Regions from separate parts of the Homo sapiens genome. Here regions 2, 3, 4 and 5 are each linked to region 1. Evidence: fine-mapped expression QTL. A gene starts in region 1. Each other region holds a variant in brackets. All regions are shown on one strand. Distances are between the middles of the regions. Region 1 holds the start of CCDC50 (coiled-coil domain containing 50). Region 2 overlaps UTS2B (urotensin 2B). Region 3 overlaps OSTN (osteocrin). Region 4 overlaps CCDC50 (coiled-coil domain containing 50). Region 5 overlaps UTS2B (urotensin 2B).

Region 1 (5,106 bases):
GGGTTAAGAGAACTAGGGGAGGCCGGGCGTGGTGGCTCGTGCCTGTAATCCCAGCACTTTGGGAGGCCGAGGTGGGCGGATCACTTGAGGCCAGGAGTTCCAGACCAGCCTGGCCAACATGCCAAAACCCTGCCTCTACTAAAAATACAAAAGATTAGCCAGGCGTTGTGGTGCACACCTGTAATCCCAGCTACTCGGGAGGCTGAGGCACGAGAATCACTGGAACCTGGGAGGCAGAAGTTGCAGTGAGCCAAAAGGAACTAGGGGAAGCCATCACACTCTAGGCCTGAAGGGACACTGGAAACAAATTGTTTTATTAGAGACCCATGAGAGCTGAGGCCATGGAAAAGAGGCCTCTACACAGGCCCTGTAGTCATAGAGGGACAGGACTGTGGCCAAAATTTTGGGTTAAAGGAAAGAAGAATACTCTGATATTTCTCTCCTCCCTTCTTTTGATTTTCTGCCAGTGCTTCCCATTGGTCAATCACAACAGGAAGCCACAGGTCAAAGGGGCCTAGTGATTTATCTGTAGGCATCCAAAGGCACGGCTTGGTAGAGAAGTAGAAACGATAGATTTGGGGAGGGAAACAGAAAATACTGCTGTTATAAATATTCTCTAGACCACAGGAAGTTAAAAAAAATTACTAGATTACAGGACAATTAAAAAATTCCCATAAATCTACCTTTCTAATACCACTTCCTTCTTATTCCCACATTTAACCTGCTGAGTGTTATCTCTGCCTAGCACTGGGGTGGGTAAACTTTTCCTGTAAAGCATATTTTAGACTTTGAGGCTTAAGAGGCAAGGTCGAAAATATTATGTCCTATTTATGTAGTGATTTGAAATGTAATTATTTGAACATATAAAAAACAGTCATTCAAATTCAGTGGCGTAGATTTGGCCTGTGGGCTATACTTTGCTACCCTCTGGCCTTGAAAGTCTTCTAAATTTTTGCTAGCCTAAAATCCACCTACTTTTCAATGTCAAGTTCAAATAAAACCTCCCCTACGTGGCCTCTCATACTGGGACTCTGAGCTGTGAGTGACAGAAAATCAACTATTACTAGCTTAAGCAAAACTGAGGATAAGTTGAGAGTTTGCGGGTTGTAGATCCCAGAATCCAGGAGTTGCTGAAATGCCAGCTGCTCTGGGGATATCCTGCTTTGCTACTGTGGTAACATCAGAACATGCCCTCTTCATCTCCCTTTCTCTTCTCTTTGCTTCTGTCTTCAGTTTGGCCTCATCATCTCCTAGAGGCAGATCTTTTCCACAAGAAACAGAATATGTAACTCTTTATGTACCCAGGAAAGTATTCTGTTTGACCTGTCTTGGTCACCCAGCCACCCTTCGATGAACCCATGTCGGTGGAGGAAGGGGGAAGAGTGATGGGGTAGTCTCGAGGTTCAGACATGGCACACGTTTGGGAGAGAAGCTCACCTCTGAGGAGTGGGGAAAGAGGCAGTTTCCCAAAAGGAGGATGCATTCTGTTGCCAGGAGATGAAACAGGAGAGGTTGTCTATTTTAGAGAGATAGAAATGTCACAATTACAATCCAATGTGTGCAGCGCTATAACAGAGATAAGTCTGACGCCTCGTTATCACCCACAGTACCTAACATCACACTTGGTAGACACATTCATGCGATTTTGATGAATGAATGACTCAGTTCTCCCAGCTGATTGTGTACACACTCTACTCCAAACTGGCCCAGAATTTTATCAGCTGCTCTTCATTCTGTACGTTGTATTTGGGGTTTTTATGGCCATCTACCATCTCTCCTCTAATTCCGGGTGCAAAAAGAGTGTATGAGAGAGAGGCAAGCATGCAGTAAACATCCTGTGTTAATCTCAATCCCAGAACCAGACCACAGAATGCTGACTACACCGCTCACGGGAAAGACTATGTTTTAGGTGACCCGTGTGGCCTTTTTGTTGAGGCCTTTAGGATACAAGGCCCCCACCTAAAGACGCGACCCTCCCGTAGGAGGGGGGCAGGGCCCGGGGGCGGGAGCACAGCGGGGCCCCAGCCTCAGGCGGCGCGTCACTGAGCACAAAGGAGACAACAGCGAGGCGGCAGCGGGCGCTGATCTTCGCTCGCCAGCCACTCGCAATTGCGGTTACAGACCTGCAGCTCCCCCTCCCCCAGCCGGCCCGCCCGCCTTTCTGTCTCCTCTCTCCCTCCGTACTGGACGGCCCCGGTCCATTTCCGGGCTCCGGATATTTGGTATCGATTGGGGCCGGGGACGCGGAGCAGGTGGCCGCGGCGGGGCAGCTGGGCCGCCAGCTTGGTGCCTCGGGGACCGTCTCCCGCTGCTTTGGTCACCAGCCCCTGCCCGCCCGACCCGCTCCGTTCTCCGGCCTGCGAGCCCTGCCGGCCGGACTTTGCGCCGCGTCCGGCGCTGCTGCTGCGCTCGGGGCCCCGCTCGGCGCCGGCGGTGACCGGGAAGCCCGCGTTAAAGGGGCAACCGGGACCCTGGCCCGGTATGGCTGAAGTCAGCATCGACCAGTCCAAGCTGCCTGGAGTCAAGGAAGGTAAGGGCCCCGGAGGGAGAGCGCGCGGGACCCTCCCCTCTCCCAGCCCGAGGTTCTCTCAGGTCAGGGGCGTTGCCATTTCGGCTCCCGCGGCCCTCGCCCGGTGCCCGCCCTGCGTTGGCCTTGCCCGGACGTGAAAGGAATTGAATTCAGGTTCTAGTGTGGGACGTTGGGCAAGTCTCCGACGTTCCAAGCCCGTTTTTTCTCAAGGGGGTGGTTGGGGGGGGGGGGGGCTAGCAGCAGCCCCAGCAAGTAGGTGGCTGTGCCCGTGTTCTCGTGCATCGCAAAGCCTCAGTGGACGCTGAGAGCCGGGTGAATCTGACTTACTCCGCTTCTAAAAAATCGAGGCCCAGCCTGGCTGGCTTGAAGGCTGGGAAGTGGAGAGGGGTTGACATTCAGTTCCGTGTGGAGCCTTTGTTTTGAAACATGACTCTTTCCCTCCTTCTCTCCCTACTTTTCCTAGGCCGGCGTCTGGCTGGCTGACTTTCCCACCTTCCTCAAGGTTTAAAAGTTTAGTCTTGGCTGTGTTCTGCGCGGGCGGGAAGCCACTATAAGCATTTTCTTACAAACAAAACACACACACACACACACACACACACACACACAATAGTGAGCGAGGGGAACAGGGGACTGATGGCCTTGTCATTGCTTTTTGTACCAATGTCCAGGAAAGTAGAGATTAGTACTGACCTGGCTTTAGCTGACAGCAAGTAGCCTTTTGACTTCCCTTCTCTTGTTTTTCCACTAGCTGCCTCAGGACCTAGCTTTTTTTTGCTGAGATCTTAGGTGCTGGATCGCCTTATGCCTTGAGTTATCTTTGTTTATTCTTTGGTCCTAGGAAGCATAGACGTTCCAGAGTGCTGACGCAGACCCCTAAGTTCCAAGGGCTTTGCAAAATCGGCTTCTGTTGTGAATGTCATTTGTATCGATTGAATACTGTAGCCTGAGGCGTCTTGGAGATGTGGAATTGAAAATAGTTTTTGCTTTCTTGGAACCGCTTGTTTTATTGCCAACTTAATTTGACTCCGTTGGTCTTGTGTGTGCTCAGGCCAGCCCAAAAATCTCAGGAAAATGAGGGACTGCTTGATTGCTTTCTCAGAGTTTCAAGCACTAGGAGACTAGTGACTAGTGGTCACTGATTTTATGTAGAATTTCTGATGGGCCTAGTTCTGTCTTACTGTTCCGGAAGGGTGTTAAAGCTTAGGCGTGAGATTTTAGCGTTAATACTTTTCTACCTTTCCGTCCCTGGTATGGCTTTGATGAAGACTTAGGGCTTTCACCTGTAGAAAACAGTTTTCACTCTGCTGTCAAGACTAAGGAGGCTGAGCGATAGGAAAGGCGGATCCATACTTTTGAGAGTTCTTATCTTAGAGATTGTCTGGTTATCCTTTACTTTTGGATATGAGGGTTTTTTGTGTGGGTATGTGTTGGGTTTGTCTCTAGAGAAAGAGTGATCCTTGTGCAGTGTGTAGTGCATGGTGAGTAGAATGAGAATTGGAGTTCAAACAAAACCTGGTATGTATAGTATTAATCATATGGTGCTATGATTTTATCCAATCCCCTATTCATGTGAGTGAAAAAACATAAAACTCTTCATATACATTTATATTACCCTTAGGTCTTCTGATTTCGTACCAAGACATGAATGATGTATTCTAACATATTATTTCTCAAGGAGTTCCACAAACACCTTCCATATAAAAATGCAAGATTTTTCCATTTCCACACTCTAGAGTCTAATACATTTAAATTAGCTTTCATTTTGCGTAATACGGTGTTTGGCAATCTCTTTTATGTAATCTGGTAAATTGGTAAGAAAATTCAGTGTGGCTCTTTCATTAAGTTACAATTAAATATTAATTTTGAAGGTGGTCAGGAATCGATGAGATCACTGTCTTTGTAAACATCTGACTTTTCTAGTTCCAAGATCATCAAAGGAAGTGATGTATTATACTAGGAATGTCCTACTAATGGTGGTGAAGTTTTTGATCTGAGAAGTATTCAAGTCTAATAAAGTGTATCCTTCCCTAATATAACTCTTAATTATGGCCCAGTTACTCCCTAACAGTGTCTTTATCCTAATTAAAGAGAATGAAGCTTGTGCCCCTGATAGGGTAAAACATGTGCAAACATTGAGACTGTGGTAATATTGAAACTCCAACTTCATTTGAGAAGGGTTAGTAGTAGTAATTAGTTTAATATTCTGATGCAGATTTTTGAACCCCATTCAAAAAAATCCCTGTATCTGTCTCCTCTACTTTTTAATTTAAACTTTTGATAGATATATATGCAGTTACAATTTATATTCAATTTGGTATCATGGGGTAGATTCCAATAGAGATTAAGAAGAATAGTGCAGTGAGTGTGTGCCCGTTTCCATTGCTGTTTAGGAGGGGATGGGGCACCCTGTGACCTTTTGTCGTGAACATTTCAATAGAGGTCGTGGGTAGCAGCTGACATTAGGGTAAGGGGATATTTAAAAATCTTCTTTCCTAGGTTGAAATCTAATGCTTGCTTACTTAGTTTTTAAGGAAGTCAAAAATATTCATCATTTGGACAGACCTTTTGAAAAAACA
Region 2 (5,106 bases), 40 kb before region 1:
TCTCCCATCAAAGAAAAGCCCAGAAAAAATCTGATAGCTTCATTGCTGAATTCAACCAAACATTTAAATAACTAATACAAATCATTGTCACACTCTTCCAAAAAATTTAAGAAGAAATAATACTTCCAAACTTATGAGGCCAGGATTACTCTGATACCAAAGCCAGATAAAGACATTACAAGAACAGAAAGCTACAAGCCAATATCCCTAACAAACATTGACACAAAAATCCTCAGCAAAATACTAACAAACCAAGATCAACAACACGTTAAAATGATCATTCACTATGATCAAGTGTGATTTATCCTAGGGATACAAGGATGTTTTACATACACAAATGAATAAATGTGATCCACCGAATTAATCGAACGAAGAACAAAACTATACAATAATTTCAACAGATGCAGAAAAAACATGATAAAATGTATATGATAAAAACTTTCATGATAAAAACTCTCAACATATTAAGTATGGAATGAATGTACCTCGGCACAATAAAGCCCCTATATGAAAAACCCATAGCTAACATTATATTCAAAGGTAAAAAGTTGAAACCTTTCCTTCTAGGATCAGAAACAAAATAAGTATGCCCACTCTCACCATTACTACGCAACATTGTACTCGAAGTCCTAGCCAAAACAATCAGAAAAAAAGAAAGAAAGAAAAGGTATCCAGAACAATTAGAAAAAAAGAAAGAAAGGAAAGACATCCATATAGGAAAGGAAGAAGTTAAATTGTCCCTGTTGCAGACAGCTTAATCATGTATATAGAAAACCCTAAAGATTCCATCCAGTAATTTAGAAATACTATGTGAGTTCATTAAAGTTGCAGGATACAAAATCTATGTTCAAAAATCACTGGCCTCTGTATATACTGACAATGACCTACCCAAAAATGAAATCAAGAATGTCATTTGCAATGGATATCCCCTCAAAAAATTATTAGGAATACATTTATCAAATAAGGTAAAAGACCTGTATACTGACAACAACAAAACATTGATGAAAGACACAAGCAAATGGAAAGATAGCCTGCTTTCATGAATTAGAATAATTAATATTGTTAAAATGTACATACTACCAAAAGTGATGTATAGCTTCACCGCAATCTCTTTTAAAATTCCAATAACATTTTGTACAGAAATAGAAATAAAAGCAATCCTAAAATTTGTATGGAACTACAGAAGATCCCAAATAGCCAAAGCAATTTTGGGCAGAAAAACGCTGGAGGCATCACATACACTACATTACTACAATATACTACAATACTATCATTATCTAAAGAGCATGCCACTGGCATAACAACAGATAAATAGACAAATGGAATAGTATAGAAATCCCAGAAGTAAATCCCACTGAAGATCAATTGATTTTCAACAAAGATGCCAAGAACATACCACAGGGAAAGGAGAGTCTTTTCAATAAGTGGTGTCAAAAAAACTGAATATTCACATTCAAAAGAATAGAAGTAGACCCTTATTCCACGCTATATGCAAAAATCAACTCAAAGTAGATTAAAGACTTAAGGCCTGATACTGTAAATCTACTGTAAAAAAAAAACTACTTTTTTCTATTTCTGTACAAAATTTTATGGGAATTTTTAAGAGAGATTGCATTGAAGCTGTATATCACTATTTACTACTTTATCCCACACTATATGCAAAAATCAACTCAAAGTAGATTAAAGACTTAAGACTGGACTCTATAAAACTCCTGCAAAAAAACACAGCTGAAAAGCTTCGTGACATTGATTTGAGCAATGATTTTTTGAGATACGATTCCAAAGCACCAGCAACAAAAGCAAAAACAAACGAGATTACATCAAACTAAACAGTTTTTGCACAGAAGTTAGTATCCAAAATATCTAAGAAACTCAAACAAATCAATATCAAGAAAACAGCTCAGCTTTAAAATAAGCAAAAGACCTTATGGAGAGTCCTCAAAAAATTAAAAATAGAACTACCAGATGATCCAGCATTCCCACTACTGTTTATATATCTAAAAGAAATCAGCCAGGCGCAGTGGCTCACGCCTGTAATCCCAGCACTTTGGGAGACCGAGGTGGGTGGATCACGAAGTCAGGAGATCGAGACCATCCTGGCTAACATGGTGAAACCCCATCTCTACTAAAAATATAAAAAATTAGCCAGGCATGGTGGCAGGCGCCTGTAGGCCCAGGTGCTCGGGAGGCTGAGGCAGGAGAATGGCGTAAACCTGGGAGACAGAGCTTGCAGTGAGTGGAGATTGCGCCACTGCACTCCGGCCTGGGCAACAGACCAAGACTCCATCTCAATAAATAAATAAATAAATAAATAAATAAATAAATAAATAAAAAACAAA[C/T]GAAATTAATATGTTCAGTGCTCTAACATATTCATCACGGCATTATTCCCAATGGCCGTGATATTGAATCAAGCTATGTCTATGATGGGATGAAAACGTAAAGAAAATGTGGTATATATGCACAATTGAAATGTCTTCAGTCATTTAAAAGAAGAAAATCCTCTCATTTGTGATAAAATATATAAGCTTGAAGGATATTATGTTCAATAAAATAAAACAGACACAGAAGGACAAATATTTTTATTTGTCATAATTTCACTTTTATGTGGAATCTAAGAAAATGTGAACTATTAGAAGCAGAGAGGAAAATGGTAGTTACCAGGAGCTTGGGTTGTGGGGAAGGGAGAATGTGTAAGAGATGTTTAAAAGACACAAAATATCAGTTAGATAGCAGAAGTTAAGTTTCAGAAATCTGTACAGCCTAGTGATATCATTAATAACAATGTATTTTATTGTTGAAAATCACTAAAGAAGTAAATTTTAAGTGTTCTCACCACACAAAAATGTTGTATGTGAAGGAATCATATGCTAATTTCTTCAATTTAGTCATAACATAATGTATACATATTTCAATACATCATGTTGTACACAATAGATGTACAGAATTTTGTCAAATTTTTAATGAATTGATTTTTAAAAAGAGACATAGACAAAGAAGTCCCTGTTTCATGACCATTTCCATCCACTTTGGGGAAAAGTCTGCAAAGATCTTTAATTAAATCTTTTATCTCTCTCTCTCCTTAATAAAATACTAAATTCTTGTCATGAGTGCATAACCAAATCATTCAAATAAAAGCAGATGTTTACTATCGATTGTATTGGATGGATAAATGAAGTTAGAATATTTGTTTGAGGAGTTCTTGTTATACACATTTATAGTATATAGCAATATTATTGTTGCCATTTATTGAGCAATCATCACATGCCAGGCCCTGTACTAAGCACCTCACAAATAGTACCTCATTTAATTTCCATAGCAATCCCTCAACAATTGCACAACTATAATTTTTCATCTTTTACAGTAAAAGAAGACAGTTTTGGAACCAAAAGTGAAACCCAGATCTACCCAACGCAGAGCTACATGCTTAACCCACATGATCTCTTGCCCACATATCACAATTGGGGAAACACAGAGATAGAAAATGATTGCTCCAATAACAGAGACCCCCATTTTAAAGAAAACTTAGAAACATTTGAACTTTGTATTTTCAATAGCAATACTTTAATAACTCAGTCTATGTATCAATTACAGGATATAAATGGCATTTCCATTTTGTCAATGAAGGCTTCGTCAAGTTATAATTTACAGGGAACAGATAGCTTTAAGATTCACTTGCATCTGACTATTTCTCACGATGAGTGACAAGAAAAGCACAGATAAGTGTTTGTATGGTGACTCAAACTGATTTGAATAATTACTTTCAGACTCCAGTAAGCTCTTGGCCTTATTACTTTTTTTGTAGTAAGAAAATTGAACAATTTTATTTTTACTTCTCTCTGACTATTAATTCTTGGTAGAATTCCTTACATGTAGTTAAATGAAAAAAATAGCGGAAGGAAGGAAGCAAAAGTAGAGTTTCTGACATCCTGACAAGACGGTGCTTGGAGTTCTTTTTTTCATTTAAAAGAGTTAACAATGGCCTGAATTTGTTGAAATAAAGTAGAAACATCTGTTCAAATACTTGGCCCTTTTTAAAAATTGAGTATTTTTATTGTTAAGTTGTAAGAGTTCATTGTATTCTGGATTCTAGTTCCTTATCAGATACATAATTTGAAAACATTTTTTCACAATCTGAGGGTAGTTTCACTTTCTTGATCATGTCTTTTGAAGAACAAAGGGTTTTATTTGAAAAAAGTCCAATGTATCTATTTTTTCTTGTGTTTCTTGTTTTTGAGTACTATAAGAAACTATTAGCTACTTGAAAGTCACAAAGATTTATGCCTATATTATTATCTAAGAGTTCTATAGTGAAACTCTAAAATTTAGGTCTTTGAACCACTTTCTTTTTTTTTGAGACAGAGTCTCACTCTGTCACCCAGGCTGGAGTGCAGTGGCGCCATCTCGGCTCACTGCAAGCTCCACCACCTGGGTTCATGCCATTCTCCTGCCTCAGCCTCCTGAGTAGCTGGGACTACAGGCGCCCACCACCACACCTGGCCAATTATTTGTATTTTTAGTGGAGACAAGGTTTCACCACGTTCACCAAGATGGCCTCCATCTCCTGACCTCGTGATCCACCCACCTCAGCCTCTCAAAGTGCTGGGATTACATGCGTGAGCCACCGCGCCCGGCCTGATCTACTTTAAGTAAAGTTTTATATATGGTGTGAGGTTGGGTTTCACCTTTATTTATTTATTTATTTTCGCATGTGGATATCTAGTTGTCTCACCACATTTGTTTAGAAGATAATTCTTTCCCCCATGAATGGTCTTGGTAGCTTGTCATAGATGTATGGTTTTATTTCTGAACTATAAATTTTATTCCATTGACCAATTTGTCCATTCTTATACAAGTAAAATATTGTTTATTAATGTAGCTTTGTAGTAAGCCTTGAAATTGGAAAGTGTGAGACTTCTAATGGTCTATTGTGAAAAGCTGTTTTGATTTCTCTGTATCCCTTGCATTTCCATATACATTGTAGGATCAGCTTGCCAATTTCTGAAAAAAAAAAAAGAGGTTGCAGGAGGGAAGCTAAGATTTTGGTAGAGGTTGCACTAAATTTGTGAATTAATTTGGAGAATTTTTCCATCTTAAAAATGTTATGCC
Region 3 (5,106 bases), 70 kb before region 1:
ACAATCCTTAAAACCTCTAAACTAGACAAAATTACTTTCACTTTAACAAAAACCAAGGTTGGGTGTTGTGGCTCAAGCCTGTAATCCTAGCACTTTTGGAGGCCAAGGCAAGAGGACCACTTTGAGCCCAGAAATTTGAAACGAGCCTTGGCAACAAAGGGGCACCCCATCTGTACAAAAAAGTTTTTTTAAATTAGTCAAGCATTGTGGTGCAAGCCTGTAGTCCCAGCTACTTGGGAGGCTGAGTTGGAAGGATCACTTGATCCTGAGAGGTCAAGGCTGCAACGAGCCATGATCACACCACTGCACTCCAGCCTGGGTGACAGAGCAAAACCCTCTCTCAAAAAAAAAAAAAAAAAAAAAAAAGACCATAGACACACAAATTTACATGCCTTTTTATAATCCTTCTTACCAAAAACATACTCTACTTCCTTACACACTTTGCATATTTTTTCTCTTATATCTAGTAGTTTTGACTACATATAGTTATTATAGTGTTAATAATTAGTAACTTTTATTTTAGTAAAAAATCTAGGAAGTAGGTAATTTTAATTACATATCAGATGCAGAGCCCAGGACAAAAGACAATGCCTGGAGAATCTAATTTCTCACAGCATCTCCCAGCAGGGGAGGCATAACTGGGATAGGAGAGAATCTAATCTCCCAGCAGGGGAGGCATAACTGGGATAGGAAAGATGGACCAGGTGTTATCCCCCACCCTCATCATGGGCATCTGTCTAGACCTCTGAATCGAAAGGCTGTAATCAAGATACACAGACTCGGAAACAAATTAATCAAGTATCAAAAATATCAAGCAACAATTTTTTGGCCATAAACCTGCCTGATCAATAGACTCAGACAAAAATGTCTACATTAAAATTTTGAAGACATTTTAATATTATTTTACCAATAATTTTAAAACTATCTTTATTTCTCAAAGATTGCTAAAATCACATGAACTTGAAAAGCATTTGGTCTTAATTTATGAGTACTCATTTATTTTTAAATTAATGTGGTACCATGTGTAGACAATATTAAACATGTATAGCTATAAATACATATATACATATACATGTATGTATAGAGAGACACAAGGTATAGCATACACATCTGCACATGAAGACTTTATTGTTTTGATTTTAGAATTTTAGCCATAAGACAGGTAAAACTCACTAGTCTAAAAAGACAGATTGAAACTATGCCTTTGTAAATGGAAAAATTTAAGGCTTATCTGGAGTACCCCTTCTGAGTTTCAGAGAAAACAGGTAGCAAATTTATATCTCAAAGCACAGAGAGAATTTGATTTTTCAAGAAGCTTGAGTAGTCAAAGGAAGATTAAAAATGAATGCCAAGATTCCTTAGGAATTAACCGTAAGATTGCATAAGGAGAGCAATCTCATTTAGATAGGTAGCTTTTAATTCAGTCTGTGTTTTTCAAGTGGACCACTGAGGTCAGGACAGAACTCATTAAGGAACAAGGCTAACAAAGTATTTTTAGTTTATAGGGCCTAATAATTTAAATATGAAAAAAGTGGATGCAGTTAAAAGGCAAAGCATTTAGATGTTTAAAAAGCAAGGGTTTCTGAGAGTTGAACAATGAGAACACATGGACACAGGGAGGGGAACATCACATACCAGGGCCTGTCGGGGCGTAGGAGGCAAGGGGAGGGATAGCATTAAGAGAAACACCAAATGCACGCGGGGTTTAAAACCTAGATGACGGGTTGATGGGTGCAGCAAATCACCAGGGCACATGTATAGCTATGTAACAAGCCTGCACGTTCTGCACATGTATTCCAGGACTTAAAGTATAATTAAAAAAAAAAAAAAATCAAGGCTTTCACTGAATCCCAGGTACCCCCAAAAGAGGAAAGCACCATGGAAACCAGGCCACACACTTTGGTCACTTTGCCGCAAATACATTTTTCTGGGTGTTTAAACCGCACCGTTGTTCATCTAATGTGCAAATGAGTAGCCCCCTGTAGTAACAAGCATTTATTGGAAACAACTATAGTTGGCCATGTCTAACACTGTTACTCTTGCCTAGCCATTACATACACTAAGGTCAAGTCTCTCATAATACCAAATAATTTCTGGTCAAAAGCCAAAGTGATCAGGTAACACAATACAAAAGAGAGCAGAGTTTTAGACCTCACAGGAGGTTGCCTACGACGCTTAAAACTGCAAGGAAAGAAGACTCCCAGAAAGGAGTAAGAGTACTCTGAGTTACCTTCTTCTGAGTCCCTTAAGGAGTGTGAGCTGTTAGAAGTCTTTTCTAGACCTTTTCCTGTGGTACCAAAAATGGCAAAGAGGAAGGAGAAGCAGGGAGAAGTGAAAGTAAACGGGAAAACAATCTGTTTTTTTTTTTTGAGACAGACTCTTGCTTTGTCGCCCAGACTGGAATGCAGTAGCACCGTCTCAGCTCACTGCAACCTCCGCCTCCCAGATCCAAGAAATTCTTCTGCCTCAGCCTCCCGAGTA[G/A]CCAGGAGCTACGCCCCCTGGCTACTTTTTGTAGCCCCCAGCTAATTTTTGTATTTTTAGTAGAGACAGGGTTTCACCATATTGACCAGGCTGGCCTCGAACTCGTGACATCATGATCCACCCGCCTTGGCCTCCCGAAGTGCTGGGATTACAGGCGTGAGCCACCTTGCCTGGATTTTTTTTTTTAACCAAAATACACTCCCTGGTAAAATTAATAAGCCTTAACCAAGGTTCTGACTTAACCAAGGATGTATGAGGTGTCTCCAAAGAAATAAATGACCACCTCCAAAAAGTCAAAAGTCACACAGATGTCAAACCAACAGGGCCCCCTGACTGGGTATCAAAGCCAGGCGTTGATGCTGAAAGCATGGACTTTTAACTATTAGACCACAAGGCAGGATGGCTTTTATTGTTATTCCCTCAGGCAATCTCTTACAAAGGATTTTAAATGTTTTAGGTCAAATTTTTGCCCTTTAATTTAGTCAAGAGAATTTTGAAAGCTAGCTATGACCCTATTATGTATCCTTCTTTTTTTTTTTTTTTTTTCTTGAGACAGAGTCTCACTCTGTCACCAGGCTGGAGCGCAGTGGTACAATCTCGACTTACTGCAACCTCCACCTCCCCGGTTCAAGTGATTCTCCTGCCTCAGCCTCCGGGGTAGCTGGGACTACAGGCACACACCATGCCCGGCTAACTTTTGTATTTTTAGTAGAGATGGGGTTTCACCATGTAGGCCAGGATGGTCTCGATCTCTTGACCTCATGATCCGCCACCTCACCCTCCCAAAGTGCTGGGATTACAGGGGAGAGCCACAGTGCCCAGCCTGTGTATCCTTTTAATTTAATCTTCGCATCAATTGTTTGGTGTAAGATATCTCTAATTTTTTTTTTTTAATTTAGGAATTTTAGTCTAACTTAAAGGATCCGTCTTCTGGCCACCGACAATTAGGGTTTCCAGTGGTGTACTTATTCCAGTAACAACTCAATCCAAAAGCCTCTTCCTGTAAAGCCAGAATGTAATTTTAGGGCATAGACAAAAACAATGCCAAAGATTCCCCCACCAAAAATCTCACTCCCGGAAACAGGCTAAGAGAGCAAAAGACTCTTGTTGCCACAGATATTAAGGAACCCACAAATTTCTGAGGGGGGTGCCAGTCACAGTTGTGAGGGGGGTGCCAGTAATCTGTGACACCAGGTGTCCCCTCCTGGGATTGGACTTTCCCGGCATTAACCAGGCAACAACGGCTGAGAAAACAAAAGCTCCTTATGGACAGGACTTCTTATGACAAACCCCCGCCCCCGAGCTTGGGAGATTAGTAACAAAAAAAGTCTTGGGTTCCCAGGCATTTTTAGGATGGCCACCTGATGTGATCCAACAACCATGCCCTTCGGGTGATGGAGACCAGGAAAGACTGCTCCCACTTAGTCAGATGTCAAGCTCTCCAGGACATAAAACTGAACAAGAGGGAACTTTATTTGGTATCCCTCTTTATGAACAACACAGAAAGACAGAGACAAAGAAAAAGACTGTTTCTGGGAGGAAAGAGATCAAACAATATGAATATTCATACACAAAGTACCAAAAAGTACACCAGAGATACTATACCCCAAGTTAAGTCACATAAATCTTTGTCTCGCATTAATCAAAATTGTGCAGAGGAAAGAGTGATTTTTACCATTCACCTGATCAGATTACAGAGAGAGAGAGATAGAGGCCAGGAGCTTTTCTGGTAAGAAATTCTTACTCTTTTTGCCAGCAGATTAGGTCTTGGGTTCTCGTAACTGTGACTTCCAGCGGGGTGAAATTTTAATCTCGCTGCTCACTGCACCCAACTGAAGGTGCCAAGGGCTAACTTTAACCTTTGCCCCTCTGAAGGTTTGCCGAAAATCACTGACATGCGGCAGATGTAAGATTAAAAGGAGAAGAGGATACAAATTTATTTAATGTGTATACAGGGGAGCCTTCAGAATGAAGGACCCAATCTACTAATGGTGTTCAAAAAATTGTATATTATCTTGAGGTTACAGAAAGAATGCAGGCTCAGAGCATGGCCAAAAACAGGTTTTAGTGACAAGAGAGGTTATGGGAGAGAGAAAGAGGCTTGGCTAGCAAAGGTAGTCTTGTTATGTAGATAAAACCCAGCAGCCCTCAGAGAGAATAGATGGCAAATGTTTCTTTTCAGACCTCTGAAAGCATTAGACTCTCAGTTAATCTTCCCTAGATCTAGACAAGAGGAGGGCTGGCTGCATGAATGCAAATCCCCCCACAAAAAAACAGCTTTATGGAGCCACTTCAAAATATGTCAAGGAAGTATATTTTGGGTAAAATATTTTGATTTCCATCACTAGTTACCAGACCAAACACTAATTTCTTCCCTGATACGTATTTTTGAAAGGACGATAATTTGCTATTTATGCAATGGCTTTCTGAAATCATTAATATATTGTACCAAAGTTTTGAGTTTTTAGTAGGCTTTAGCTCTAAGCAACTCAAATTCAAAGAAGTATTTTGTCTAAATGTTCCTAGCTTTTCTAGATGAAATTAGCAAGTTCTAGGTCTGTGCCATTGAAATCAGAATGTCAACCTGATAAAATTAGAAATGTGACTATTGGCCGGGTGCGGTGG
Region 4 (5,106 bases), 52 kb after region 1:
CTATCAGTCTGATCAAAGCTGTGGGGAAGTTCTAAAGCGAGTGGGTTTATTTACTCTCAGAGGAAAAGCCATGGCAGGACCACTGCTTGTCTCACAGGTATTATCACATGACTGCCAGGTGCTGCTGTTCCTGCTCCCTCGGAAGTAGTAAGTATGCAGGCTGAGATAAATAGAAAGAAGCCTCTACTCTCCTCCAGCCTTGACAGCTTAGCCTCTTTTAAACTCTGACTCTGTAATTTGCTTTTCTTTAAATTATTTTTGTTTTCAATGACTTTTTTTTCACTTTGTATTTTTCCAGGGCCTCACTTGCAACTTCTTACATAAATTTCTGCTGTTGCAGAAACTATGTGAGAGGGGACTTTTTACCAGGCAGGCTTGCTTAGATATCTTTGTTTAAATGTATGCATTATCTACATTGCCACTTCCATTCCTAGGGCAAAAATATTTTTAATGCACCCCACACTGTATTCTGGAGTAGAGGTAGTATTGTCATTGTTAGCTACTAAAGAAAAATCTCCTTTATCTTAAATTTCTTAACTTTTCAGAAAACATCCTCGGTTGTTTTATTACATTGAGTTTTTTTTTTTTTTTAAAGGAATGAAGCCAAGAGTGATGAAAGAAGCTGTATCTACTCCATCACGAATGGCCCACAGGGATCAGGAATGGTATGATGCTGAAATTGCCAGAAAACTGCAAGAAGAAGAACTTTTGGTGAGCAAATTTTAAGGCAAAAGTTTAGATATATTGATGGGTATTTTTTTTGTGAATCTAGTCCATCTTGAAATTATATTAATAGTCCTCTATCAATTGAGAAACCTTTTTTTATGAGTGGAAAAATCATGACAATAGGAATAGAGTATCCACTTTTGCTTAGTGAGTAAGCATTAGCAGCAAAGTCCATAACTCCATTTCTCCATCTCCATGATTGTTCTCCATAACCCTGCTGTAGGATTTGATAAAAAGAGCTCCTGCTCTGGCTGGTGAAAGCATACCAACTGATTATCAACCTCAGGAACATGAGTCACAATTATTTTCAAAAACCAGCTTATTTTGTACAAGATACTGAAAATGCACAACATAGATTCCAATTAAATTCTTTGTTTTTGTATTTTCGATATCATAGGCTACCCAGGTGGACATGAGAGCCGCTCAAGTAGCTCAAGATGAAGTAAGTTAATGAGTTTAGCTGATATTCTTTGGAAATATCCTAGTATATTTCTATCTGCACCTCTGCAGTTAATGATATTGACTGTATTTTGTTTAGGAAATCGCTCGACTTCTAATGGCTGAAGAAAAGAAAGCTTACAAAAAAGCCAAGGAGCGGGAGAAATCATCTTTGGACAAAAGAAAGCAAGACCCCGAGTGGAAGGTAGAGTGTGTTTTGTTTGTTTTCTAATTAGAAATAAAATTAGAAATGAAAAGGGGACTCTGCTTTTGAGTTAAGCTCTGCAAATATATTTAGGATATATGAATATATAAATTATCTGTATTGCATATGTGAATCTGATCTGTGAAGATTCCATCACCATGAAAAATCACTGAATTTTGGAACATATGTAAAAAGTTACTGCTAAGATTGAAAACTCATTCTGTTCCCTTTAAGACGGAGTGAAATGCAAGTGCTTCTGGTCATGAACAGTCTTAGTTTTCATATACAGTACTTTGATTATAGAAGAATATAGCATTTTCACATGCTTTCATATTTTCCACAATGAACTTCTCTTCCCGTCTCTACTTTCTTTGTGCTTACATTATCTTTCATCTCTATCATGTATCCGTTTCTCTTTCCTTTGATGTAACATGGTTTGTGGCAGACTGAAAGATACATACTTATCACCAACAATTATTATTTATGTCACAGTGCAAGACCTATCTAGCGTGAGTTTGGACGGTTATCTTTCCCCTCGTTGATCAGAAATTGTAGACAAAATAAGCAGTTACTGCAATTCATTTTGCTGCGGTAATTGTGAGTTCCAGCTTAGCAGACTTTATTCATCAGTGACAGCGCGTAAGACAACACTTTGGACCTCCATGGAAAGACAAAGACATTTTTCCTGATAGTAGTGTATAATGTAGAGAGGAAGACAAAGTGTAGACAGCTAACAAATAGAAGGTTAAGCTAGGTGGAAAAAGAGCAGAGGAATAGGGAGAGAATTCGTACAATACAGGGTTTTTAGGGAGGGAGTTTAGGCCCAGAAGAATGAAACCTAGGTTGTGTATTCCTTACACAGTTGGTGTTTAGCGCTGGTCTCTCTTGAACAAATTCCTCCATTGGGTTTCTGGTCCCACCTCACAGTCTCAGTAATGGTTGTGAGGAAAAAGGTGTAGAAACCCTGCTAATAGTATTGCTGTACTCTTTCCTGTTGCTCAGTTACCCACGAGTTAGTCTCAAAACAATGAATGTATTATTCTCATATTAATTATGTATATTTAGCTCTCTCTTAACTAACTCAGTAATTCAAGATTTTTTCTAATATACTGTTTTAGTCAAGGATTCCCAAATACTTTTGTTAAATAAATTAAGCCACAAATAATTACCCAGGAGTTTCTCAGATTCTTTG[C/T]TACCTTAACTAGGAAAGGGTAAGTATTTAAGGATTAGGAATCAAGCGTGTCAGAAGGCAATGGCCACATCTCTAGCAGGTATCATCATGACTTCTGTAATTTTTATTTTATAACTGGTACTGATACAGTTCCTCTCTTGGAAAAGTTGACTTGAATGTGCCTTAGTTTACTGGCTGGAAATCAGCCTAAGACATGTGTGCGGAAATAAGTTTGAGTGCACAAACCTGGATTCCGTAGACTCTGGGCGTGCACTGGTTCTTGGCAATTACTGTGTAGCTATTATGTTAATAATCAGTGGCCAAGCACACCCATCTAGGGAAGCATGTTCCTGTGTGTTCAGCCCATTCCTCTGGCTGCTCTAAGGCTTTCAGATGAGTGGGCTAAATTACACCTTCCATGTAAGCCCAAAGCCTACCTTTGCAGCTATAAATTTTCTACCTCTGGAGTGGCCATATATAAAAATATTTTATGTTCCTCAATTAAATATAATTAATCTGAAATTACTAAGGAAGAGCTTGGCATGATAAACATACGTTAAACTTAATCTTTCCCTTTGTTTGATGATTCTGGATTGTATGTGTGTGTTATTTTTGTTTGTTTGTTTGTATTTTTGTCCATAGCCAAAAACAGCTAAAGCAGCAAATTCCAAGTCAAAAGAGAGTGATGAACCTCACCATTCTAAGAATGAAAGGCCAGCACGGTAAGCTGACACCTGAAAAGAAAAATGAGGAAGTTGACTTTGGGGTGAATAAGGAGATTTCAGTTCCCTAAGAAGAGTGTATGTTTTTTGGAGAGGAGATCCAAAAATCTGCATTTGTAAGGTAGTGTCAAGACATTCAGGGTTATTTTTAGAACTTTATTTCCACTCTTAAATTGAGTTGTGTACATCAAATCAGAATTTTACAATAGTTGGGGTGGATAAGGAAGAATGTACTTTTTGTTAGGACTGATTCTTACCTCTGCATTCACTGAATTTATGCTTTCAGCTTGGGGAATGAGAGTGATTTTTTTTCCTAAATAAAATTTCGAGTTTTAAATATTTACCGGGTTTCATAGCCACACTGATGTGTGCATGCCATTTGCACATGCTCAAACTCATTTCTTTCTGAGTCTCAGTGTCCTTGACAAAATCTTGAATCCTTGCAGACTGTCTAAATCCCACTCAACAAATAGCTGTGGCTATGGTGTACATACTTTCTGATTTATCTCAAACAGTCGTGCATAATAGTTATGGAGCAGCTGCTGTCTTTCTGCCTCAAGTTGTCAACATTTAAGTCTCTGGGGAAGTAACCTCTTTTTTTTTTTAATTGCTTTTTGTTGCCTTTCGAAAGAAAACATGATTGGAATGTGAAGAAAAAGATACTAAAAACAAGACAAAAAAGTAACACTAAGTTTAAAATTTTGAAAACTCTGAATTATTCAAATTTGAATTTTATTCTTATTTGTTAATTCTTGAAACATAACGCTTATTTCATTGAATAATTGACACTGTTGTTGCTACTCATGCCCACACTGAAGCTCCTAGACTTGTTTCCTTCAAGTGAATGTATTTAGTGTCCTTAAAAAGTAATCCTCTATTTTAAAACTCATTTGCTTTCAGAAGATAATCTTTCAGAAAATTACATTGGGTTTGTATTGCTCTGAGAAGAATAGTGGCATATTCTGTCTAGTTATATAAAATCTTTCTGTTGTAGCTTTTGGTTAAGCACATGCCAAACATTTTCTTAGAACTCTATAGGTTAGTACATTCCCAAAGTATCCAAGTAAAAGAAGCAGCAGCTAATCTGTTCTTAGTAAGTAAATACATCTGGATTATTATCCTTTTTTTAGTCAAATGAATTTAAATCATCTTTAGGCTTAATTCTGCAGTCTTCAGATCCTTGGCCTCTTTAGAATACTAATACCATTGACAGCATATATGATGGAACAGTACTGGATGATTTCTTAAGAAAGTTTATTAAAGTCTGAAAACAAGTTTTTGGAATATAATAGATACTTTAGAAATATTTGGCATACTGAAAGAGTGAATAATCAAATGATCCTGTATTAAAAATGGCTATTATAAATGAATGAAAAGTGACTTAGGGCTAGTAGAATAGAAATTTTTGTTTTTACCTTAGAGGAACATTTGTCTTTAAATGTCATTTTAGCAGGATTGTATATATGACCAAAAAAATGAGGAATTTTATGAAACCTGTATTTTCATAGTTAAAAGATAAAGCTTATATATCTTGCATATGTAGATACCTTGCACAACTAATATCAGAATGTATACTTTCTGGTTAGAATCTGGTTTTCCTCTTTCACATTTAATCATGATGGAAAAGTTTAGCTATACAGAAATATTTGGTTTCAAGGATTGAAAAACATGGCACTTCCTAGGTCAAGATGTTTATTACTGAAGTGTAGTAATAGTAGTAGTGAGACACAAATTCTTATGTAGAGCTTGTAATACTTATGGTTAGAAATCCAATTTCTTTGTCTGTTACAGAATTTTCTACTCTTCGTGTATGTGTGTTTAACTTTTGTTGTTATTTTTCAAAA
Region 5 (5,106 bases), 29 kb before region 1:
CTGCTTTAGAAAATAAATAACACTTTCTACTTCTGTCATATAACACTGAGAATTCCAAGCGCTGGGCTTCTGTCTCTAACATGTAAGATGTTTAGGCTAATTACATCTGAGATCCTTTCCCTTTGAACACTCTGTGGCAATATTTTGATGAATCCTTTCTTATCATCAACTGTTGCCTAGTTGTAGCATATATATTCATCTTTTTATTTTTTAGGGAAAAAAGGTAAGCCAAGATTCTTATACATTTAACACCCAATGTCGTACCTAGCACAATAATAGACCCACAATAACCTTGTGAAAAATGTATACATTGAATTCCAAAAAAAACAGTCACTGCTTTAACTTGGAGATACAGTTTGGATTTTTGCCCCTGCCCAAATTTTATGTCAAATTGTAATCCCCAATATTGGAAGTGGATTCTGGTGGGAGGTGTTTGGATCATGGGGTAGATTTCCCCCCTGCTGTTCTCATGACAGTGGGTGATTTCTCATGAGATCTGGTTGTTTAAAAGTGTGTGGCACCTCACCATTCTCTCTGTTCCTCCTGCTCTGGCCATGTAAGATGTGCTTGCTTTCCCTTTGCCTTCAGGAATGATTGTGTTTCCTGAGGCCTCCCCAGAGCCATTATGCTTTCTGTAAAGCCTTCAGAACTGTGAGCCAGTTAAACCTCATTTCTTTATAAATTACCCTGTCTCAGATGTTTCTTTATAGCATTGTGAGAATGGACTAATACAGAAAATTGGTACCAAGGAGTGGAGCACTGTTATAAAGATACCTGAAAATGTGGAAGCAGCTTTGGAACTGGGTAACAAGAGGTTGGAAGAGTGTGGAGGGCTCAGAAGAAAATAGGAAGATGAGGGAAAACTTGGCACTTCATAGAGACTTGTTGAATGGTAATAACCAAAATCTTGATAATGATATCGACAGTGAAGTCCAGGATAAAGGGGGTCTCAGATGGAAATGAGGAACTTATTTGGAACTGGAGCAAAGGTCACTTTTGTTATTTGTTAACAAAGAGATTGAATGCATTATGCCCCTGCTCTAGGGATCTGTGGAACTTTGAAATTGATAGTGATGATTTAGGGTGGCAGAAGAGATTTCTAAGCAGTAAAGCATCCAAGATGTAGCCAAGCTGCTTCTAACAACAACATATGCTCCTATGCAGGAGCAAAGAAGTGATCTGAAATTTGAACTTACATTTAAAAGGGAAGCAGAGCATAAAAGTTTGGAAAATTTGCAGCTCAGCCATATAGTAGAAAAGAAAACTCCATTTTCTGGGTAGAATTTTAAGGCAGTTACAGGAATTTGCATAAATAAAAGGTAGGCAAATGCTAATAGCCAAGACAGTAAGAAAAAGGCCTCCAAGGCATTACAGAGACCTTTAGGGGCAGTCCCTCCCATCATATGCCCAGAGGTCTAGGACGGAAGGATGGTTTTGTGGGCCAGGGCAAGGGCCCCAATACCCTTTGCAGCCTCTGGACACTGCTCTTCACAGCTCAGTTGCTTCAGCTCCAGCCACGTCTAAAAGGACCCCAGATACAGCTCAGGCTGCTGCTTCAGGGAGTGCAAGCCATGAGCCTTGGCAGCTTCCATGTGGTGTTAAACCTGTGGGTGCACAGAGTGCAAGAGTTGGGGCTTGAGAGCCTCCACCTAGATTTTAGAGATGTACGGCAAAGCCTGGATGTCCAGGCAAAAGCCTGCTGCAGTAGCTGAGCCCTCATGGAGAACCTCTACTAAAGCAGTGCAGAGGGGAAGTGTGGGGGTGGAACCCCCACACAGAGTCCCCACTGGGGCATTGCCTAATGGAGCTGGGAGAAGAAGGCCACCATCCTCCAAACACCAGAATTGTAGATACACCAACAACTTGTGCCCTGCACCTGGAAGAGCCACAAGAAATCAACACCAGCCCTTGAGAGCAGCCACGGGGGCTGAACCCTGCAAAGTCACAGGGGTGGAGCTGCCCAAGACCTTGGGAACCCACTCCTTGCATCAATGTGCCCTGGATAGGAGACATGGAGTCAAAGGAGATTATTTTGGAGCTCTAAGATTTAATGACTGCCCCATTGGCTTTCAGACTTGCATGGTGCCTGTAGCCCCTTTCTTTTCTTTTTTTAACATTTTTTTTTATATATACACATATATACATTTTTTCTTTGACACGGAGTTTTCGCTCTTTCACCCAGGCTGGAGTGCGGTGGTGCAATCTCGGCACGCTGCAACCACTGCCTCCTGGTTCAAGCGATTCTCCCAGCTCAGCCTCCCGAGTGGCTGGGATTACAGGCGCCCACCACCATGCCTGGCTAATTTTTGTATTTTTAGTAGACATGGGGTTTCACCATGTTGGCCAGGCTGGTCTCAAACTGCTGACCTCATGATCCGCCCACCTCAGCCTCCCAAAGTGCTGGGATTACAGGTGTGAGCCACCGTGCCTGGCCTGTAGCCCCTTTCTTTTGGCCAAT[T/C]TATCCCTTTTGGAATGGGAGTATTTACCCAATGCCAGTAAATCCATTGTATCTTGGAAATAACTAACTTGTTTTTAGTTTTACAGGCTCATAGGCAGAAGGCACTAGCTTTGTCTCAGATGAGACTTTGGACTAACTTTTGAGTGAATCCTGGAATGAGTTAAGACTTGGGGGACTGCTGAGAAGGGATGGCTGTATTGCAATGTGAGAAGGATGTGAAACGTGGGAGGAGCCAGAGGCAGAATGACATGGTTTGGTTCTGTGCCCTCACCCAAATGTCACATCAAATTGTCATCTCCAGTGTTGAAGGTGGGGCCTGGTGGGAGGTGATTGGATCATGGAGGTAGAATTCCCCCTTTGGGGCTGTTCTCATGACATCTGGTTGTTTAAAAGTGTGTGGCAACTGCCCCCTCTCTCTCTTGCTCTTGCTCTGGCCATGTAAGATGTGCCTGCTTTATGTTTGCCTTCAGGTATAATTGTAAGATTTCTGAGGCCTCCCCAGAAGCTCTATGTTTTCTTTACAATCTGCAAAACCATACAATAAGTAAACCTCTTTTTAAAACAAATTACTCATTCTCAGGTATTTATTTATAGCAGTTTGAGAAAAAACTAATATTCTTGGTATGGTTACTCTTTTTCCTCCATAAATCTATTTTTGTGTGCATTCCATTTTATCACTTTTTCTTCTTTATTTATGAAAGTGACTTACTGCCCTAACCAAAATATGTCACCTTCTTTCCTTGACTAACCCAGCCTGTTCCTCTTTAGGTGGATTTTAGCTGTCTTTCCGGGTGGTGAAACAGATTCAAGAATTTGCATAAGCTTTAGTGAAACTAGAAAAGAAAATTTGTCTCATTCTAGCTGGTGCCCTAAAGATTTGAATGGAAAAAAATACAGTAGTTCAGACATCCCTGGCTTTGCAAAATGCCATTTTGCTCAGTCTTCATTGAGTCACAGTGCCACTACCTTGTCTTCCACAAGTTTCACTGAGTTTCTCACCACAAGAGTGTTGAGAACTGTGAAGATTCTTCAATGTTATCAAAACATTGAGTTATAGATGAAGTTAGATACTGAACAATTGGTATTTGTTTTATTAACTAAATTTTTGGTAATTTTTTTTTTTTTTTTTTTTTGAGATGGAGTCTCGCTCTGTCGCCCAGGCTGGAGTGCAGTGGTGTGATCTCGGCTTGCTGCAAGCTCCGCCGCCTGGGTTCACACCATTCTCCTGCCTCAACCTCCCGAGTAGCTGGGACCACAGGCGCCCGCCACCATGCCCGGCTAATTTTTTTTTGTATTTTTAGTAGAGACGGGGTTTCACCGAGTTAGCCAGGATGGTCTCGATCTCCTGACCTTGTGATCCGCCCGCCTCGGCCTCCCAAAGTGCTGGGATTACAGGCGTGAGCCACCACGCCCGGCCAATTTTTGGTAATATTAATACATCTATGGAAACCCTATTCAAAGAGCAGTGCTCTAGAAAGATGTCATTATCAAAATGAGATTTCTTCCTCTGACAGAATCTGTTAGATGGAGTCAATATTTATGGAGTTTTTATCCTGCTTGTGTCAGAGGCATTTGAAACAGAGTGACATCATCTTGAATAGGGGCTGGGTAAAATTAGGTTGAGGTCTGCTGGGCTGCAATCCCAGGGGGTTAGGCATTCTTAGTCACAGGATGAGATAGAAGGTCAGCACAAGATGCAGGTCATGCAGACACTGACCTGATAAAATAGGATGCAATCGAAAAGCAGGCCAAAACCCACCAAATTCAAGATTGCGCTGAAAGTCACCTCCGGCCATCCTCACTGCCCATTGTAAGCTAATTGTAATGTATTAGCACACTAAAAGACACTCCCGCCAGCATCATGACAGTTTACAAATGCCATGGCAACCTCTGAAAGTTACCCTGTGTAGTCTTAAAGGAGGAGAAACCCTCAGTTCCTCTAATTTCCCACCCCTTTCCAAGGAAACTCATGAAAAATCCACCCCTTGTTTAGCATATGATTAAGAAATAACCATAAACACAGCCAACCAGCAGCCCTCAGGGCTGCTCAGCCTATGGAGTAGCCATACTTGTATTCCTTTATTTTCTTAACAAATTTGCTTTCACTTAATTCTGTTGGCTCACTCTTGAATTCCTTCCTGGGCAAAGCCATGGACCCATGTGGCCTCCCAGGCTGAAACTCAATTCTAGGTTTCAACCTGTGACACCTGTATAATTTATACCTCCTGCCTGTATATGATTGTTTAGCTGAGCTGTTCGTTAAGTCCATTAACTACTATAACAACATAAACTCAGATTTATTGGCACTACTGTTTGCTTTGCTAAGACATGGAGATTGAGAAGAAAGGATTCTCTGGAAGGCAAAGGTTGTAGAAACTGTTGGGACTCAGAAAAATTATGCCCCAGAATATGGCACTTTTGTTACGCTGAGTGCTTTGAACTAAAGGAGAAACAAGGCCTCTCTGACCTTCTCTGTTCCCCTAGTCTCTTGCTCCTCTTTCCCTCCCAAAGCAGGCATGAAGAGGCTCTCTCTAAAGTTCCCTTAACTCACTAAAGAAAGTTCCTGTGAAAGGAATGCAATTGTCATGAGGCCCCTCCTTACAATAATATCATCAAATAGCGAAGATTAACTAACAGGAAAGGAGAAA

Evidence for each region.
Region 2: its variant is fine-mapped to the expression of CCDC50 in whole blood (TOPMed, PIP above 0.99).
Region 3: its variant is fine-mapped to the expression of CCDC50 in whole blood (TOPMed, PIP above 0.99).
Region 4: its variant is fine-mapped to the expression of CCDC50 in whole blood (INTERVAL, PIP 0.97).
Region 5: its variant is fine-mapped to the expression of CCDC50 in whole blood (INTERVAL, PIP 0.96).

What each region holds. Positions count from the first base shown.
Region 1 is chr3:191,327,194-191,332,299 of GRCh38, forward strand. CCDC50 (coiled-coil domain containing 50) reads left to right here and starts at 2,201. Exons shown (of 12, transcript NM_178335.3): 1 at 2,201-2,530. The coding sequence starts at 2,482. UTS2B (urotensin 2B) reads right to left here and starts at 3,333. Exons shown (of 9, transcript NM_198152.5): 1 at 3,221-3,333; 2 at 1,438-1,516. RefSeq lists enhancers at 1,768-2,369, 2,370-2,970 and silencers at 1,897-1,976, 2,077-2,356.
Region 2 is chr3:191,287,119-191,292,224 of GRCh38, forward strand. All of the region lies in intron 4 of UTS2B (urotensin 2B), which reads right to left. Among named protein-coding and RNA genes, the nearest start is that of CCDC50, 40 kb to the right of the region's middle. The variant C/T (reference allele first, on the strand shown) is at 2,340.
Region 3 is chr3:191,256,844-191,261,949 of GRCh38, forward strand. All of the region lies in intron 4 of OSTN (osteocrin), which reads left to right. Among named protein-coding and RNA genes, the nearest start is that of OSTN-AS1, 25 kb to the left of the region's middle. The variant G/A (reference allele first, on the strand shown) is at 2,482.
Region 4 is chr3:191,379,564-191,384,669 of GRCh38, forward strand. CCDC50 (coiled-coil domain containing 50) reads left to right here. Exons shown (of 12, transcript NM_178335.3): 7 at 596-711; 8 at 1,124-1,168; 9 at 1,265-1,369; 10 at 3,183-3,262. Among named protein-coding and RNA genes, the nearest start is that of PYDC2-AS1, 43 kb to the right of the region's middle. The variant C/T (reference allele first, on the strand shown) is at 2,562.
Region 5 is chr3:191,297,914-191,303,019 of GRCh38, forward strand. All of the region lies in intron 4 of UTS2B (urotensin 2B), which reads right to left. Among named protein-coding and RNA genes, the nearest start is that of CCDC50, 29 kb to the right of the region's middle. RefSeq lists enhancers at 1,496-1,675, 1,686-1,745, 4,022-4,547. The variant T/C (reference allele first, on the strand shown) is at 2,459.